Regions from separate parts of the Homo sapiens genome. Here region 2 is linked to region 1. Evidence: fine-mapped expression QTL. A gene starts in region 1. The other region holds a variant in brackets. All regions are shown on one strand. Distances are from middle to middle.

Region 1 (8,340 bases):
ACAAAGAATTATCAGGCCTAAAATGTCAACAGGGCTGAGGTTGAGATGAAGTCATATTCTTAAGGACAGTTTCCCCTACAAGCCCATCTAGTGGAGGCTCTGTGTTCTCAGAGTCCTAGTACCAGAGGGATTGGAAGTGGGGCTAGTTCCTCCTTTTTGCCTCCATTCTCCTTTCCTGTCTAAAACCCATCAGTTTAGAATCTTATGTCTTGAGACTACCGCCTTGCTATTCTTCTCTGTTGCTGTCATTTATCCACCCTGGATGCCATATTCCAACCCCTCTGGACCTCCACCATATTCATCCTACCACCCTTTCACTGCCCCTCACTCCCTTCATGTTCTCTTTACCTAGTTCAAACTCCATGGTCAGTTATAACCACTCTTCTCTCACTCCTTACTATTCACTTGGGAAAACCTTAAACCTGGTTAAATCTAACTTTCCATGTCTATATTCACTAATGAAGGCTGAATTTCTACCACCTTAAACCCTCTCTTGATCCTCTATCACCACTGGTTACTGTCCCATGTCTGTGCTCTCCTTTGCAGCAAACTCCTTAAAAGAAATGCCTATACTCACTGCCTTCTGTTCTCTCATTCTCTCCAACCAGTATTCTGCCCATTGGTTTCTTCACTCATGCGCTGTTCCTGTTACTCCATGGAAACTGCTCTCATCTCCGTCACAGATGAACTCAGTGTTGCTAAAGCTAATGGTTAATTCTTGATTGCTTCCTATCAGTGTCACGTGACAAGGATCACCACTTCCTCAATCCTTTCTCATCTGGTTTCCAGGATTTGACACTGCTGATTTTCCTCCTTTCTCAGTGGTTTCTCCTTTACCATCAGCTTTGGTGATTCCTCGCTTCCCTCCCTGACTTTTTAATACTGTAGTGCCTTAAGGCTCAGTCCTGTATTTTATCCATCTCTACATTCACAGACCTGGTGGTCTCATCCAATCTCATGGCTCTAAATGCTATCTGTTACTGATAACTCCCAAATTGACATTGCTAGCCAATCTCTCTCATGAACGCCAGACATGCATATCCAATTGCCTTCTCAACAGCTCAACTTGGATGACAGACCTCTCACTTAGTATGTACAATTTCAACCCCTATACCTATAGTTACATTCCCTCAATTGACAGTAACTCCATCCTCCCAGTTATTAAGGTCACAAATATTGAAATCATCCTTGTCTCACTCCTTCACACCCTATATCCAATCAGTTATTCAAAGCGTATCCAGAATCTAAGTACTTCTCATTATTTCCATTGCTGTAACCAGGTCCAAGCCACCCATCTCCTTCTTTAATTAGTGTAATAGCCTCCTATTACACTGGTTTTCCTGTTTCTATGCTTGCTCTCTATAGGCTACTCTGAACACAGCAGCCAGAATCATTTTTTAAAAAACTTAAGTTGGATCATAGCACTCCTATGTTCAAAAATCCCCCAATGGTTCCCTATATCACTCACAACAAGAGCCTAAGTCCTTAAAGTGATCCACAACTTCTTACGCTACTCTCATCCTGCTCTGCTCTGGTCACACTGGCCTCCTTTTTGTTCCTTGATAAAATCAGGCATGTTCCTGTCTTAGGTCCCCTTCACTGAACGATCCTTTGCTCGACTCTCTTACCTCATACCCTCATATGTACATGGCTCACTCCCTCACCTCCTTCAAATCTTTACCTATTAAGGCCTTTCTCAGTAAGGCCTGCCATGATCACCCTATGGAAAACTGCAACTTCCTCCCAGACCAGCACTCCTGATCTTCCTTACCGTTTGCTTTCTGTTGCAGAGCACATTTTAATACAAGAATGAATCATTATATTTCTAAATTATAGTCTAAATTATAGCCCGCTTCTCTCATGAGGCTCTGTGCCTCATCCCCACTTTCCCTATATTCATTTTGGACTTCATCCTTGAGAGTGTTAAGGTCCTTACCTAAGATTCCATTCCAAGTACTGAACAAAACTTTGGGTAGGAGTGGGCAGTAATAACATTTTTTTTTTCTATTGTCAACATCCTTGGGTGAAAGATAATAGGGCAACTAAAGACTAAAATGAAATTGTAAAGCTGCACCTAGGAATTATATCTCAAACAAGATAATGCAGAATTCTGTGTATAAGCCAGCACGAAATACCATACAATTGTTCCCTTCAAAGTAAGTCTAGCAGCTCTAAACAATTTTAATTACATATTAAATAGAAGAGAAATATAAAAAATTGTCCACTAAAATAATCTATATACTTTCTATTTAATAAATAATAATTTTCACTAAAGCTAGATTTATCTCTAAAGCTAAAATAAATTACGTAATCTGAACTTTAAACGTTTTAATTTACTATTCGGCTGTTTATCAATGGTGTTTAAAACCTGCCTAAAAAAATACCGCACTTTACCTAGCACAATGAAACATTCTCCTGCACTCATCACTGACAAGCTGATCTAAGTCCTTGCCACTGACTTACAATACCCTTCCCCCGTTTTAAAATTATATCCCTTACTTTGTCATAAATCACTTTTATAATGAGAGAGCAGCTAGGACACGTTGCCACGTCTTCCCCATTCTCCAAATCTTCCTACAACGAAATCAAATACCATGTGGTCAGGATAGCTTCTCTTCGCCATCTCCTCCCCCAAACCTATCCCACCCCTAGATGCAAGTCTCTTGGTGGCTTGCCTTCCCCCCAAGGTGGGTGAGAACCCCAGGGCCTTCAGCGAGAAATGCCGACATCATTTTCCCCTAGAAGCGTCACTTAGGGGAAACACCTAGGAAGGTCAGGCGAGCTTCGGTCGCCCCAAAAGCCCTGGGAAACAAAAAACGAGTCCCCTCCTCGACAGAAATATCCCAGGTTGGGACCCTAAGGCAGGGATCGGGCAGAGAGACAGAGGCTCTCCGCCACCCTCTCCCTGACCTAATCTAAGGCCAGAACTGCGTGCCTACCGAGAGAGCTCAGGGCATTAGTTGGGGTGGGGGGACGCGGGAGGAGGAAGATTCAGCAACGGGAAAGAGGGCGTGGGTGACACAGCGCAGCAAAGGCTACCCAATGATGGAAGGAACGGGCGGAACCAAACTGCGCTTGCTTGGGTGAACCGCCGGGCGGGACCCTGAAGTTACCTTGGTGATGGAGAAGTTATCTCCACATGGGCAGGGATAGAAATACGTCTCCGAGTCCTCGTCATATTGGAAGTCCTCGATTTCCACCTCGTCATGAAACACTGCCATGGTCAGCGGGGGTGGCCGAAGGGGTAACGCCCCAGCAGTCCGAGGCCAGCTCCGAGGGTTTAACTTCGCCGGAACCGGCCTGGGCTCGGCATCATCAGGTCGCGCCGGGCAAGGACTAGCCCTTCCGGCGCATAGGCAATGACGCAACTCCGCCCTGCGCGGCCAAATGGATAACCGGTAGCGGTCACCATGGAGATGGCTGAACTAGGGGCGGAGACACTGGGAAGACTGAAAGCTTGCTCAGCGGGGTCGCGCACCGCTCCTCCTATTGGGCGGCAGCGACCAATAGAATGTGGGGCTCGCCCGCGCTGCTACGTCACGTCTGGGACCGCGGAGTATTCCAGGCGCCTGCAACTAAACGTGGCCGGGTCTGCAAGCTAGGTGCCAGCGGGGAAAGTTTCCCTGCTTCTTATCGTCTGCTTTAACGCCTTAAATAGCCCGCTGAAGGCTGCAGCAGGTGCTAGGTAGCAGCCTCCCGGCCCTCGGGAAAGGCGGGGTGGGGAGGCGAGAGCAGCTTAGCCTCCTCGACCTCCCTTCCTGGTGACGGACGAACAGTTCCCGTAGAATTTCGCTTCACCGAGTGACCTTGAGCCCAGGGCGACGGTCAGCTTGTTAATTCCTGGCTGCAGGTACATTCCGCTTCTTCCTCACCCCAGACGCCTTAAAATACCCTAAATTGTGTTGCTGAAAGGACCAAGCCCTGGAAGGCAGGGATTGAGTTCTAGTCTTCTGTTTGCCAGGCTTATAACATTATTAACGACGATGATTTTTAGTAATAGTAATAACATCACCTTTTATTATTGGGAAGTTATGTGCCAGCTATTGCACTAAGTGGAATTGTCAACTCTAGGAGTTTACATGTTATTCCATTTTATTAATCTTTAAACTGAGGTACAGAGAGTTGGGCATCTTGACTAAAATCATACACCTGGGAAATAATGAAGAGCTTGTCTGTCTCCAAAGCCCAGGAACAAATTACTTATGTGAGTACCAGTTTTTTCGTTGTGAAAGAAATGGTGTCAGTAGGCAGGTTTATCAGTGTGAGGCCTATGTATGCCTTGAAGCGAAATGCAGATAAAAGGCATTTTTGTCTTGAAAGCAGTGCTAGTGCCTGTTTTGGTAAAACCGATTACATTGGGTCTTACTTAATTACTAGGCATTTTAATATCTTAGTAGAGAAGAAATGCATTGTAGTGAAAAAGCACTTTCGAGAGAAGATCTGGGATCGGAATCTTGAGTTGTTGATTACCTCTGGCAACTGGATATTTACATTCTTTGGGCCTTATTTCCTCTTCTAAGAAAGGATTGGAGTAGAGATGATATAAGATCCTTTTTAGATGTAATGTTCCACTTTTGCACGGAAATTATGAGCTTTACTTGGTTCAGCAATGATATATAACATTTAGTTTACATTTACGTAACACATATACATAATATATCCCTGTGCACTTTTGAAGAAAACATTACAATGACTACTAAACTTTACATTTATTCCTAAAAGGGCGGATCACGAGGTCAGGAATACGAGACCAGCCTGACCAACATGATGAAGCCCCGTCTTTACTAAAAAATACACAAATTAGCCAGGTGTGGTGGTGTGCCTGTAATCCCAGCCACTCAGGAGGCTGAGGCAGGAGAATCTCTTGAACCTGGAAGGCAGAGATTGCAGTGAGCTGAGATCACGCCACTGCACTCCAGCCTGGGCGACAGAGCTAGACGCTGTCTCAAAAAAAAAAAAAAAAAAAAAAAAGAAGTAGGTCATAATTGTATAATGCAAACTATATTTGATGAGTGCTGTTGTATATCAGGCCAGAAGGAGTTGTTTATTGGCAATACCAAACCTCCACCTCTCTAGGTTGTTTGACAAGGAAGAGAAGGGGTCAATGTATTAGGATTGATTTTAGTAACACTGTTGCTTGCCAGGTACTTTGGTAGACATTTTATTTATTCCTCTCAGTAATCCAGTGAGGTGGCGTGGGTAATGTTAAAATGGCAAGAGGAGACTTGCTGAAGATTAGAAAGCAGGAAGGAGTCACACCTGAGCCCAGTTCCGCTGATTTCCGGTCAAATACTCTGTGTATACTACTTGTTTACCACTAAGGTGTCTTTGCCTGTTGGAGCAAGAGGAGCCCTTTTTCTTCCTCAGTGACACCTAAGATTCTAAATTGACAGATGTCATGATTGTTCTTTGAACTTACTTAATTTCAGTGCATTTATGCTTATTGAGGCATTCTTGGCTTTTCTCTGTCAGTGTCCTCTCACACCCTGCCTAATGTATCAGCAAGTTTTGGGGCTCTAATTCCAAAATATATGTCATGTTCATCTACTTCTGCCATCTCTGTAGCTGTTACCTTATTATAATCTTAGACCAGAGTCTTTTAACTGGGTTTCCTGCTTCCACTCCTGCCCCTCTCCCTCTGTTATCCTTCCCACAGCAACTTGAGCAGTCCTTTAAAAATATAAATTAGGTCTTGTCCTTCTCCTGATTGATTCAGACTTTTCAGTTGCTTCCCATTACCCTTAGGATAAAATTCTTACCCTTACTATAGACTGCTGGACTTCATCTCATTTCACTCTTACCAGCTTACTGCTCTCCAGTCACACTGGCCTTGGTTCCTTTAACATGCCGGGCTTATTTCTGTGTTGGACCTTTGCTCTTGCTAGTCCTTCTGCCAGAGTTGTCTGCCTTTAACATTTGCTTGGCCGCCTTTTCCTCATCATTCAGATCTCAGCCAAGGTGTCATCACTGGAGAGATGTCTTTCTTGATATTTCCCCCACCTACCCCATCACTCTTACTCCCTTTATCATACTCATCATAATCTATAATTATCTTGTTATTTGTTTACTACTATCTGTCTCTGGAACTGTAATAAAAGCTTCATGATGGCAAGGGCCTTGCGTCTGGTTCTTTATTATATCTCCAAGGCCTAAAATAGTGCCTGGCACCCCTGTAGTTGTTGAATGAACTGAGTATACCTGTTGAACTGAAACCATATAATTAATCTTAAATGTTAAATTTAATCTGTTGCTTTCAGAAGTTTGTTTTACTACATATTTAATGGGTGTCAGTTTTATTTAGCACTTATTATACTTTTCTGCATTTCAGAAATAAAGTTAATTAAGATTTTTTGGTAAGGGAAGGCCTGTGAGGATACAGACATTGATGGGATGGTCTACTTTATATGGTTTTAGAAATAACTTGATATATATTGATCTGCTGTGGTTGATTAAATGCTTACAGTATGGAACCGCCGGACATATTTCAAAAAATTAGTAGGTTTTAAATTTTTTATATTTTATTTAAAGGACTGGCATAAAGCTTTGGAAAGCACTTTAAACAGAATTTTATAAAAATGTCCTTTATTTACCAGTAGGTGGCACTCTTGGTCATGGTTACTTTCACAAAATAAAATCTTAGGATTTTAAAGAGAACTCCTTTTTTTTTTTTTTTTTTTTTTTTTTTTTTTTTGAGACTGAGTTTCGCTCTTGTTGCCCAGGCTGGAGTGTAATGGCATGATCTTGGCCCACTGCAACCTCCGCCTCCCAGGTTCAAGCGATTCTCTTGCCTCAGCCTCCTTAGTAACTGGGATTATAGGCGCCCGACACCACACCTAGCTAATTTTTTGTATTTTTAGTAGAGATGGGGTTTCACCATGTTGACCAGGCTGGTCTCAAACTCCTGACCTCAGGCGATCTACCCACCTCATCCTCCCAAAGTGCTGGGATTACAGATATGAGCCACTGTGCCCGGGAAGAACTACTTTTAAAATTAACATTTGTTTTCCAGTTCAGTTGAGAAGGGGACCATTCAAACAGCATAATCATTAAATGATGTATCCTATTGTGAGGACAACTTATTTTAGCAATAGTTGTCTAAAACATTGAACAGAACAGTATTTCCATATTTAACAATATAGTGGTTAAATTTTATCAGGGAACTTGGCCTTAAATGACATGTAACTGTGTCATTCTAGCCTTTGGTCTGCTGTTTCCTGGGGTGGATATCCTAAGTAGCAGGTGTTAAAGACAGGCAAGGAAGATGAACAAAATAAGCTGTAAGATAAATAATCAAAAAAGAAAAATGGAAGCATGGAGGAAAGAATGGATGGAGAGGGGGTAATTGAGAGTGGGCTTGTTGTGAGGTGATGCCTACTGATTTTAATGAGCCTTTCCTTTGGCAGCTAAGAGGTAATAGTGCTTTTGATCAGTTCCCCAAAACATTGTTATATGTTGTTTGTGCCATTGCAGGAACTTTGTGAGAATTTTAATGCATGGAAAAGCTGTCCATGTTCCAACTGCTGTACATCCAAAAGTCTCAGTGTAATAGCAGGACCAAAATATTCTGTCAATCAGCTGACCATATACTTAATGACTCCTAAAATCTCGTGGACTTCTAAGGTAAGTTTCAACTTCTTTCTTTCAGGGATTAAGGTAACATTATTGACTTAGAACATTTAATGGAGAAAAACTACGTTTAGTGGTCTTGAATGAGGTTGAAGAGGCCTTCTGCTTTTTTCATTTAGTAAAGAGAAAAATAGCAAGTAGCATGCTTATCCGCAATGATGCTGCAACATACTATGACAAGAAGAAATATATCGTTTATCTAAAGACTAGTTATGAAGCAGTGAGCTTTTTAATATGATTTGGGTATAACCAAATAAACTGCATATGACTTATATCACCATCAGATTTATTTATTTTTATTTATTTTCTGTCTTCATCTATTGGAATGCAAGCTCTCTAAGAGAGTTTTTGTTTTCTTCATGCCTAAAGCACCATTGCTTAGGCCAGTGCCTGCCACATAGTGGACTCTTGATAGATACTCGTTGAATGAAGGACCAAATTAATGAATATGGAGTAGGAATGTAAACACTTAGCTTGAATATTTTGCTAACAGCAATTTATCACAATTAATTTATATACTGCCTCCCAAAAAGCTCAGAAAAAAAAGTATTCACATGCATTTTCATTTATTCTCAAGGTAACTAAGATGGACAAATAGAGCAATGTAACATGTTAAATGTGGCCATTTTAGACAAAGAAATGTTTAAAAATTGACATAGGAAAATGATGGAAAAGGAACCAAAAAGAAATATCATCTGACTCCTAATCAGTGCT
Region 2 (8,340 bases), 83 kb after region 1:
TAGATCCCAAGGGCCACCCAAGGTATTCTGTGGCCTCCCAGAATCAGGTCTCTTCAGGTCCACCACCTTCTAGATCACTGCACAAGCCCCTGAAAAAGATGTGAAACAGGCCAAGGCACAGGATGGCATCAGAAAGCTCATGAAGACAGACCTCCTCCCAATGAAAGCACATCGTTGCCAAGTGCGGCCTCTCAATCAGTTATACACCACCCATAGGCCCTTCCTTTTTATTTAGTTGTATTAAAAGCCTTGGCCAGGTGAATTTCAAAGAACATATTTCAAGGAGTGGTAGTGAGTGAACACATAACTACAAGAACACCCCCCAACCTTTTATGCTCACTGATTTAATATACTTCAGTTCTCTCTGGAGAACCATTTGCCCTCTCTTCATCTGTGGCTCTCAAACTATGCATTTTAAGCTCTTTTAGGGGGCCACATGGAAAGCATAAGAAATGGGGGCAGCCCCCAGGAGCAAGGACCAGCTCCTGGATAACTGCCTGCAAGAAAACAAGGACCTCAGACCTGCAACCACAAGGCCAACAACCTAAGTGAGCTTGGAAGTGGATTCTTCCCCACCAAAACCTCTAATAAGGCACACAGCTCTGCTGACATCCCATTTCAGTGTTTTGAGACCCTAAGCAGCAGACGACCCAGTTCAGCCCACCTGGATTTCTGGCCCACAGAAACTGTAAGATAATAAGTAGGTGGTTGTGTGTGTGTGTGTGTGTGTGTGTGTGTGTGTGTGTTTAAAGCTGTTATAGAATTATCTCCCACTTTTTTATCTCAAACACATTGGGAAAACCTAAAGATATAGCCCCTGTTATCACATTGAGCCCTTAACTTGCCACAGGATGCATAAACATTATTTTTGGGCATGTTGTGAGGGTGTTTCTGGAAAAGATTAGCATTTGAATGGGTCAACTGAGTAGACCAGATGGCCCTCCCCAGTGTGGGTGGACACCATCCAGTCATTGAGGACCTGAACAGAACAAAGGGTGGAGGAAGGCTGAATTAACACCGCCTGACTGCTTGAACAGGAACGTCCATCTTCTGCCCTTGTTGCTCCTGGTTCTCAGGGCTTGGGACCTGGACTGGAGTCCACACCATCAGCTGCTAGCTCTCAGGCCTCTGAACCATACCACTGGCTTTCCTGGGTCTCCAGCTTGCAGATAGCAGACTGTGGGACTCCTCAGCCTCCATAATCACATGAGCCAAAACCTTATAATAAATCTCTGTGTGTGTGTGTGTGTGTGTGTGTGTGTGCGCGCGCGCGTGCGCGCACGCGCACATGTGCATGTGTATGTGTATAATCTCCTACTGGTTCTGTTTTACTGGAGAACCCTAATACACTTCTTTCTTGTTGTTCTGTGGCATACACTGAATATTTTAAACCGCATTTGTCACAGGATTTTGAAAACGTGATCATTTGTTTCATCCTCTCTTCCTCTGCAGCAAGAATCAAAATTCACTTTGCCCCATGATCTTCACCAGAACGGCATACTTGCCTCTCCCCTCGTCAGATTGAAAAGGTTCCTATGATTTAGGGTCTTCCAGCACCCCTCAGGAAGCTTGACAATGAAGAGGAATTATTGATGAATGTGGAAAGGCCAGGGGGTGCACATTCATTTTTAATGACTACACACCTTCCCTTGACTAAATGGAATCAATCCTTCCTGCCTGAATTTCATCCATTCATCATGCTCTCACAGTGGCTGACACACAGTAGGAACTCAATATTTATTTGTTGGATAAATTTTTAAAAAGATATAACTTACTTGTATCACTAAATTTTGTATATGAAGTGAAATATGGCTGTCTGAGAAAATAGGACAATTGAGTTTATGGAAGAAAAAAGTGCAGATAAAGATTAAAGGTCAAATACTTCCTTTTGTCATCTCATTATCCAAACCGTCAACAAGTCCAGTCTTCTTGAAAATACCTCTAGGAGCATCCTGCCTTGCTAGTCCCCCTCAGTGGCACATTCTGTTGGCTGCCAAAGCCAACAGCCCCTCGATGGCCCAGGGCTTCTTCCTCACTGACACCCCCCAGGCCTGGACAACCATGACTCTTGACAAGTGGCATGGGTCTGTGACTCAGTCCTGGCCAATGAGACCTGAGGAAATCTCTGTTGTGGGTTTCTGGGAAAGCTTTTACTTGCTAATAAAAAGGGACGTGTGGCAGGAAAAAACTGCCCCGTTCTTCACGGTTGTCATCACATTTGCATGAGACACCTAGAATTGCCACAGTCACCTTGTGAGGAGGATCATAAGGAGAGCCCTGCAGACAGGCTGAGGATGAGTACAGAAAGATGGCAACATCTGGATCCCTGGTGGCATCTTTAAGCTGTTGACAAAGCTGACTCTGCAACCTCCCCACCTTGCTCTAGACTTCCTGCTCAATGAGATGAGATGAACACCCCTACGGCTTAAGCCACTTTTAGTTGGATTTCCTGCTATGAACGGTGGAAAGCAACCCAACTGATACCCATGACCACCACCCTTATTCTATTTCCCTGGGCTTCTGTTGGCCTTTCCCCCATTCTGGCCCTTTCTCCAGGGCCAATTGTCCCAGTGTACAGCTCTCTGATGAAAATCCCACTATGGCTCCCTTCAACCCATTGCAAAAATCCAGGCCCTTGCCTCACCCACACGGTCTTCCCCAGACTTTTCACATGCAAACATACTGTCAAGGACACCCTACAGGGCAACCCTGGAGAGACGTCCATGCATGTTATATCCATTTTCTAGGGGGGGCTATAACAAATGACCACAAAATTGGTGGATTACAACAATAGAAATTTCTCACAGTTCTGGAAGCCAGAAGTTCAAAATCAGTATCACTGGGTCAAAAGTCAAGGTTATAACAGGCCCATGCTCCTTTTGGAGGCTAGGGGGAGAATCCGCTCATTGTTTTTTTCCAGCACTAGTGGCTGCTGGCATTTCTTGTCTTGTGGCCTCACTACTCCAATCTTCAAAGCATTTTCAACTCTCTACTCTGCCTTCACCTCTATGTGTATAAAATCTCCCTCTGCCTCTCTGTTACACAGATGCATACCCACCTCTGTGTGCACACTCACCTCTGTGTGTACACCACCTCCTCTCTGGAAGGAGCTTTCTCTGTGAAAGGGGAACTAGGGAATTGAGGGTCAGAGGAGAGAGGAGGATTCAGTCTTTACTATATACACATTTGCACTGTAAGCATTTTGTTTAAAATTATTATAAAGCCTCCAATAACTTTTATCTCGATTTGCAATGTAATATTCCTCAATGGGACTTTTTTACACATGCTCTTAGGTCAGGTTCCCTATAAGGAGACCCTAAAACAAGTATTCACGTGCAAGTAACTTATTAAGGATGTGCTGCCAGTGAGGGAGCGGGAGAAGTCGTACAACAGAGTAGAAGCAGCCCAGGAAGGACACAATTTTAAGAACATCCCGTGACCAGCGGCTCAGTCTGATCCTGTGGGGAGCTCTGAGGGGTGAGTTATGCTCAGAGTTGTCCCCATCTGAGGCCAGGGAGCAGGGCTTTCATACACCCACACTCCTCTGTCATCGACGAGGACCACCTCGGAGCACTTGTGGCTCTTGTTGCTTAAAGCAGGGCAGGCTCCTGGAGCTCAGGAGCAGGGCTTTGCTAAGAGGCACAAGTGCTGCCTGTTTGAGGTGAAAGCATGATGGTAAAAAGGAAGCCGAGGCATCTAGATCACTGACATTATCCATAATCAGAGGCGTCTAGGAGATCACCCACATTATCTATTATTGAAGGCATCTAGGAGATCATCCACATTATCCAATATGTGTTCTAATTATAAAAAAAAATTAATAGATGTGCCTTCTCTTCCAGCTGGCCTCTGCTCCTGTCACTTCCCACAGCAGGAAGCCCCCACACTCAATTCCCTTAGCCCATCCAAGTCCTGGCTTGACTTGCCAATACCCAGCTGGAGCCCACTGTGTCCAGGAGGCCTTGTTCAGTCTCTGCTCTCTCCCAGGGCACTTCTGGTCAGCAGGGCACAATTAGCCTTGAATGCCTTCCCATTTCCTTTGTAGGATGTCTTCTTCCCGAGGCTCCTTGATGTGTGGGGCCTCAGCAAATGCCCCTTTGCATCCTTGTTCCTGGGCATCAAAAAGTAGTCACTCTCTTTGAGCCTATGGAGTTTCCCAGTTCCCTGAGGGTTCTGTTATGGAACCCCTAATCACCATCTCAAGTGGTTCTTTCTCATTTTTTATGTACTCTTTCATGGATTAAGTCCAGCCCACCTGCCCCACTGGGAAGCAGGAGGACTGGTTTTGGTCCAATAGCCCATCATCTCTGTGTCCTGCCACTGCCACAATCCACACACATTTCAGAACACCCGAGCAAGTGGCTGCTGCCAAGGAGGAGGCAGAGGGAAAATTCTGGCTAAAAGAGGTAAAAGAGGGACAGACAGCCATCCCAGGCTCCACTATCCAAGGACAGGGTCAAAGTTTCAGATCAGAAGTCAGGACTCAATAATCAGATCATGGCCTTTTGGGGTCACTATTTCTAAATGTAATCTCTTCCCCATCATTATGGGAAGGGAAATGACTTACCTGGGCAACACAAACTGTATAAACTAAGCTTTTCTCTGTGACGTTCCTAACAGCAGAAGAGTACTAGCGGCCATCTCCAGAGACAAGAAGAAAAAGAATTTCAGAGGCTCAGAGGAAAGTTCAATATGGCCCCATGGCAAGAAATACAGGCATGCTGGCTCCAGGTGGACTTGTCACCCTAAGATAAAAGTTGGAGGCAACTAAGGAAAACCACTGTGGCTGT[A/C]GAGATGGATGAGTGTGAATTTATAAGGACAGAAGGGGGTACCTGAGCCTCCAGGGATGGTGACAAAAGTAAGGCAAACCCAAAAGAGGAGGAATGTTGAGCCTGGAATGAGCTGAGGTGTGCAGGTGGCGTGAGGTATACACACATGCACCTCAGCCTAGAATGAGATGAGGTATGTGAACTACGTATGTGCATGTGTGCACACGTATACACATACGCCATTTAAAATCATGCTCAAAGCAAGAAGTTGCACAAGAAAAGGGTATGTTCAAGACAATAAAAATGGGATTATTCAACTCCTATTTTACTTGCTTTTCTACAAGGAGACAAATTTGGCTAAAGTCTAAGAGACTGTGAAGTTTTCTCCCCATTAATGGCATCACAGCATTTGTATCTGATTCATCAGGATTCTCCTGAGAAAGAGAATCAGTAGGCTATCTTGTATCTAGAAAGATTCATTTTGAGGAACTGGCTTACATGACTGTGGAGGATGTAAAATCCAAAGTTTGCAGGGTAGCCCAGCAGGCTGGATATTCCAGCAGGAGTCGATGTTGCAGTTTTGAGTCTGCAGGCTGAATTCCTTCCTCTTCCGGGATCTCAATCTTTTTTCTTAAGGCCTTCAACTGATTGAAGTCCACTCACATTAGGAAGGGTAATGTGCTTTACTCTTCTACTGAGTGGAATGTTAATCACATCTAAAAATACTTTCATAGCAACATCTAGATTGGTGTTTGATCAAGTAAGTGAGTACTATAGCCCAACAAAGCTGACATAAAATTAACCATCACAGGACAATTCTGCAACTTAATTTTCTCGTTTAACATTTCCTGTAATTCCTTCCATGTCAGCTTATACAGAATGACCTCATCTATAATAAGAATATATTATCCTTTGTTTAACCATTCCCCTACTGATGGACATGAACATTATTACCTTTTTTGATATTACAAGTAATGCTGAGATAATATCCTTGTCTATGCCTTCTTGTGAACACATGCATTTGTTTCTTTAGAAGAGATGGACATGAAGTATGAAATTGCTGAGTCATGGATGGGCGTGGGCATTTCAAATTGTTAACAGATGTTAGCAGTTTGCCCTCTGAAGCAAACTTGAAAATTTTAAATGAGCTCAAGCTGAGATGAATCACTTTTTTTTTTTTTTTAAAGGAAAAGGCACTCATCCATACATACTATTCTGTAAACAGGTGTGTAACTGTCAAGGTGAGTGGCACACAAGAATTTGATAAAAGTCAAAGTACTGAAGGCGCTGCTAAAGTAGATCTGAGGCTATTCTGACTTCCTCGTTACTCACCTGTGCTATGATTTGCTTTGCAGTGGGAAAGGATGGAGATGCAGCCTGGGAGGGGTTTGGGTGTTGATTCCTGGGCCTTTCATGGGAGTGATTATTCACAGGAAAATCATCCCTATCACAGGAAAAAGGCAGAGAACTGCTGTCTTTGGCACTAAAGACTATGATCTCAGAACCAAAGTAATTATCTTGGAGAAACTGTGGCAATAGAAGAAAAAAGCCAGATGGTTTAAAAAGAACAAATATTGGCTCCCTTGTGAATTCTAGAAACCATAGAAATTGATGTTACTCCCTGGCAAATCCTAGAGTGGATTCTTAAAGAGATGGTTGGGAGCCTTTGAAAGCAAAAGCTTGAGCCCCAGAAACCTGCAGAACTTCATGAAGAACAAGTGAGACCTAATGTGTTATTACACAGGATTCACAGGATTATGAGACAGGGTTACAGGCCAGAGTAGGTTTCAGTTACAGAAAAGTGTGTCATCGAGCCTTTCATGTAAATACAATAGAGGAATGGAAGATGGAACAACAGGGCCACCTGAATCCACTGCAGAATGGTTTGGGTTAGTGTCAGGCACTGGTGGAGAGATTCCTGCAGCGCGCCAAGGACTGTGTCCTTGATCCAGTCTGTTTGCCATTGAGACCAGTCAGGAGCCTCCATACATATGAAGCCTTCAGGGAAGCCAAGGCTGGAAGATCCCCAGAATGAAGGATGATATATCCATGATCAGAAATGTCTTGACAGGCTGGGGAAATGGGCAGAAGCGAATAGTATGAAATAAAATGGGGGTTAACTCAACAAAAGATTGAATACGCAGGCAGAGAGTGGAGAAGAGCTGACTCCAGAGCCTCATGACAAAGTCTGCGGGGTTGCAGAGGCTGTAATGATACCCTAAGCCATTCTACCTGAGGCTGTACTTGCAGAAATACAAGTCCACCCTGACAGAAGTCAAGTCCTCGCAGGTAGCAGCTGCTTTCTAGGATGCTCATGCCCTTCTGACCTCACCAACTGAGCACTTCAGGGGTAAGCTGTATATAAGTTAGACCCATTATCCTAATTACATGTCTTAATTTAAATGATTTAAAAGCATATAAACTATAAGTGCAAAAACAAGTTGTTTCTCAAAAAACTAAGTTGAATTCCTTGAATAGACTCAGCAAAGAACAATCACTAAAAAGTAACAACTGGCTGAATTAGGGGTGTGTTGGGTGAGGGGACTAGAAAGACTAGAAAAAAAAATCATGAAAACATGGATTCTGCAGTCAGATTCCATTGATATTTTAAAGAAACTGACACTGGGCATTGTAGCCAGCACACTTTGGGTGTGGTTTATATGAGAAAGATGAGGCAGAACTCTACTTCAGCAGACACTCAACTCAAAAAGACTGGCAAATGGACATGTATTTACATACTTTACATTCAAATAAAATGTGTAAGATAGGAATCTGATTTGCTTTGGGTCTCTTTAATTGGCTTTTTCAATTAACCCACCAGCCACCATACCAATTGCATCAGCTGTAAGTGCTTTTTCTACTCTCTTATGTTCCATTCTGGCACCAAATTTCACGATAAGCACTGATATGCTAGAACATATTCCAGGGAGAGGGATAAACATGGAAAAGGCTCTATGGCTCAGGTAGCACCTGGTGGTGTCTATAAGCTCTGATGGGCTGTCAGGCTCAAAGATAAACAGATTCAGAGGGAAGAAGAGGGTCTCTGTATCTTGCTCTTTACCTATTCATCTATGTAGTTTTTTCCTTTCCTTTCCAAGAATTACCCTTTCTGCTCACATACTAGACTGTAAACTCAAAGAAAGTAAACAAAATACCTGTTATAAATGCCCTATGGATAGACATTTATCTTACAAATGCCTTTAATTTTAGGCTGTAGGTTTCCAACCGAGCAAAATGCAATTATTTGTATTTGACTCTACAGGTTCCCTAGCCCAACCTCCTCTGTGCTTTTAGCATAAAACGAAGGCAATGGGGGGAGGATCTGTCTCACTGATGATACCAGGTGACTGACACAGAAAGCAGTATGTAGTGAGGGCTTACTATGTGCCCAGTCCTACATTCACAACTTTTTAATATATTTTCTCTTTTAATTCTCATCAATTTTGAGAGGTTGTTACCAGTATCCCCATTTATACAACTGAAAATAGAAAAAGCAGGTGTGGTTTACTTTTCACATAGTCTGTCACTCAGCTTGGAATCAGAGAGGCAGGATGCACACTCAGGCCAGACT

What was found. PIP is the estimated chance that this variant, and not a neighbour inherited with it, causes the effect.
Region 2: its variant is fine-mapped to the expression of OXNAD1 in whole blood (TOPMed, PIP 0.99).

The regions. Positions count from the first base shown.
Region 1 is chr3:16,261,656-16,269,995 of GRCh38, forward strand. It overlaps OXNAD1 (oxidoreductase NAD binding domain containing 1), which reads left to right and starts at 3,557. Exons shown (of 9, transcript NM_138381.5): 1 at 3,557-3,850; 2 at 7,471-7,620. DPH3 (diphthamide biosynthesis 3) reads right to left here and starts at 3,288. Exons shown (of 3, transcript NM_206831.3): 1 at 3,114-3,288; 2 at 2,500-2,574. The coding sequence starts at 3,221. RefSeq lists an enhancer at 3,120-3,429.
Region 2 is chr3:16,344,556-16,352,895 of GRCh38, forward strand. All of the region lies in intron 7 of RFTN1 (raftlin, lipid raft linker 1), which reads right to left. It also overlaps a transcript of OXNAD1 not described here. Among named protein-coding and RNA genes, the nearest start is that of OXNAD1, 84 kb to the left of the region's middle. The variant A/C (reference allele first, on the strand shown) is at 4,791.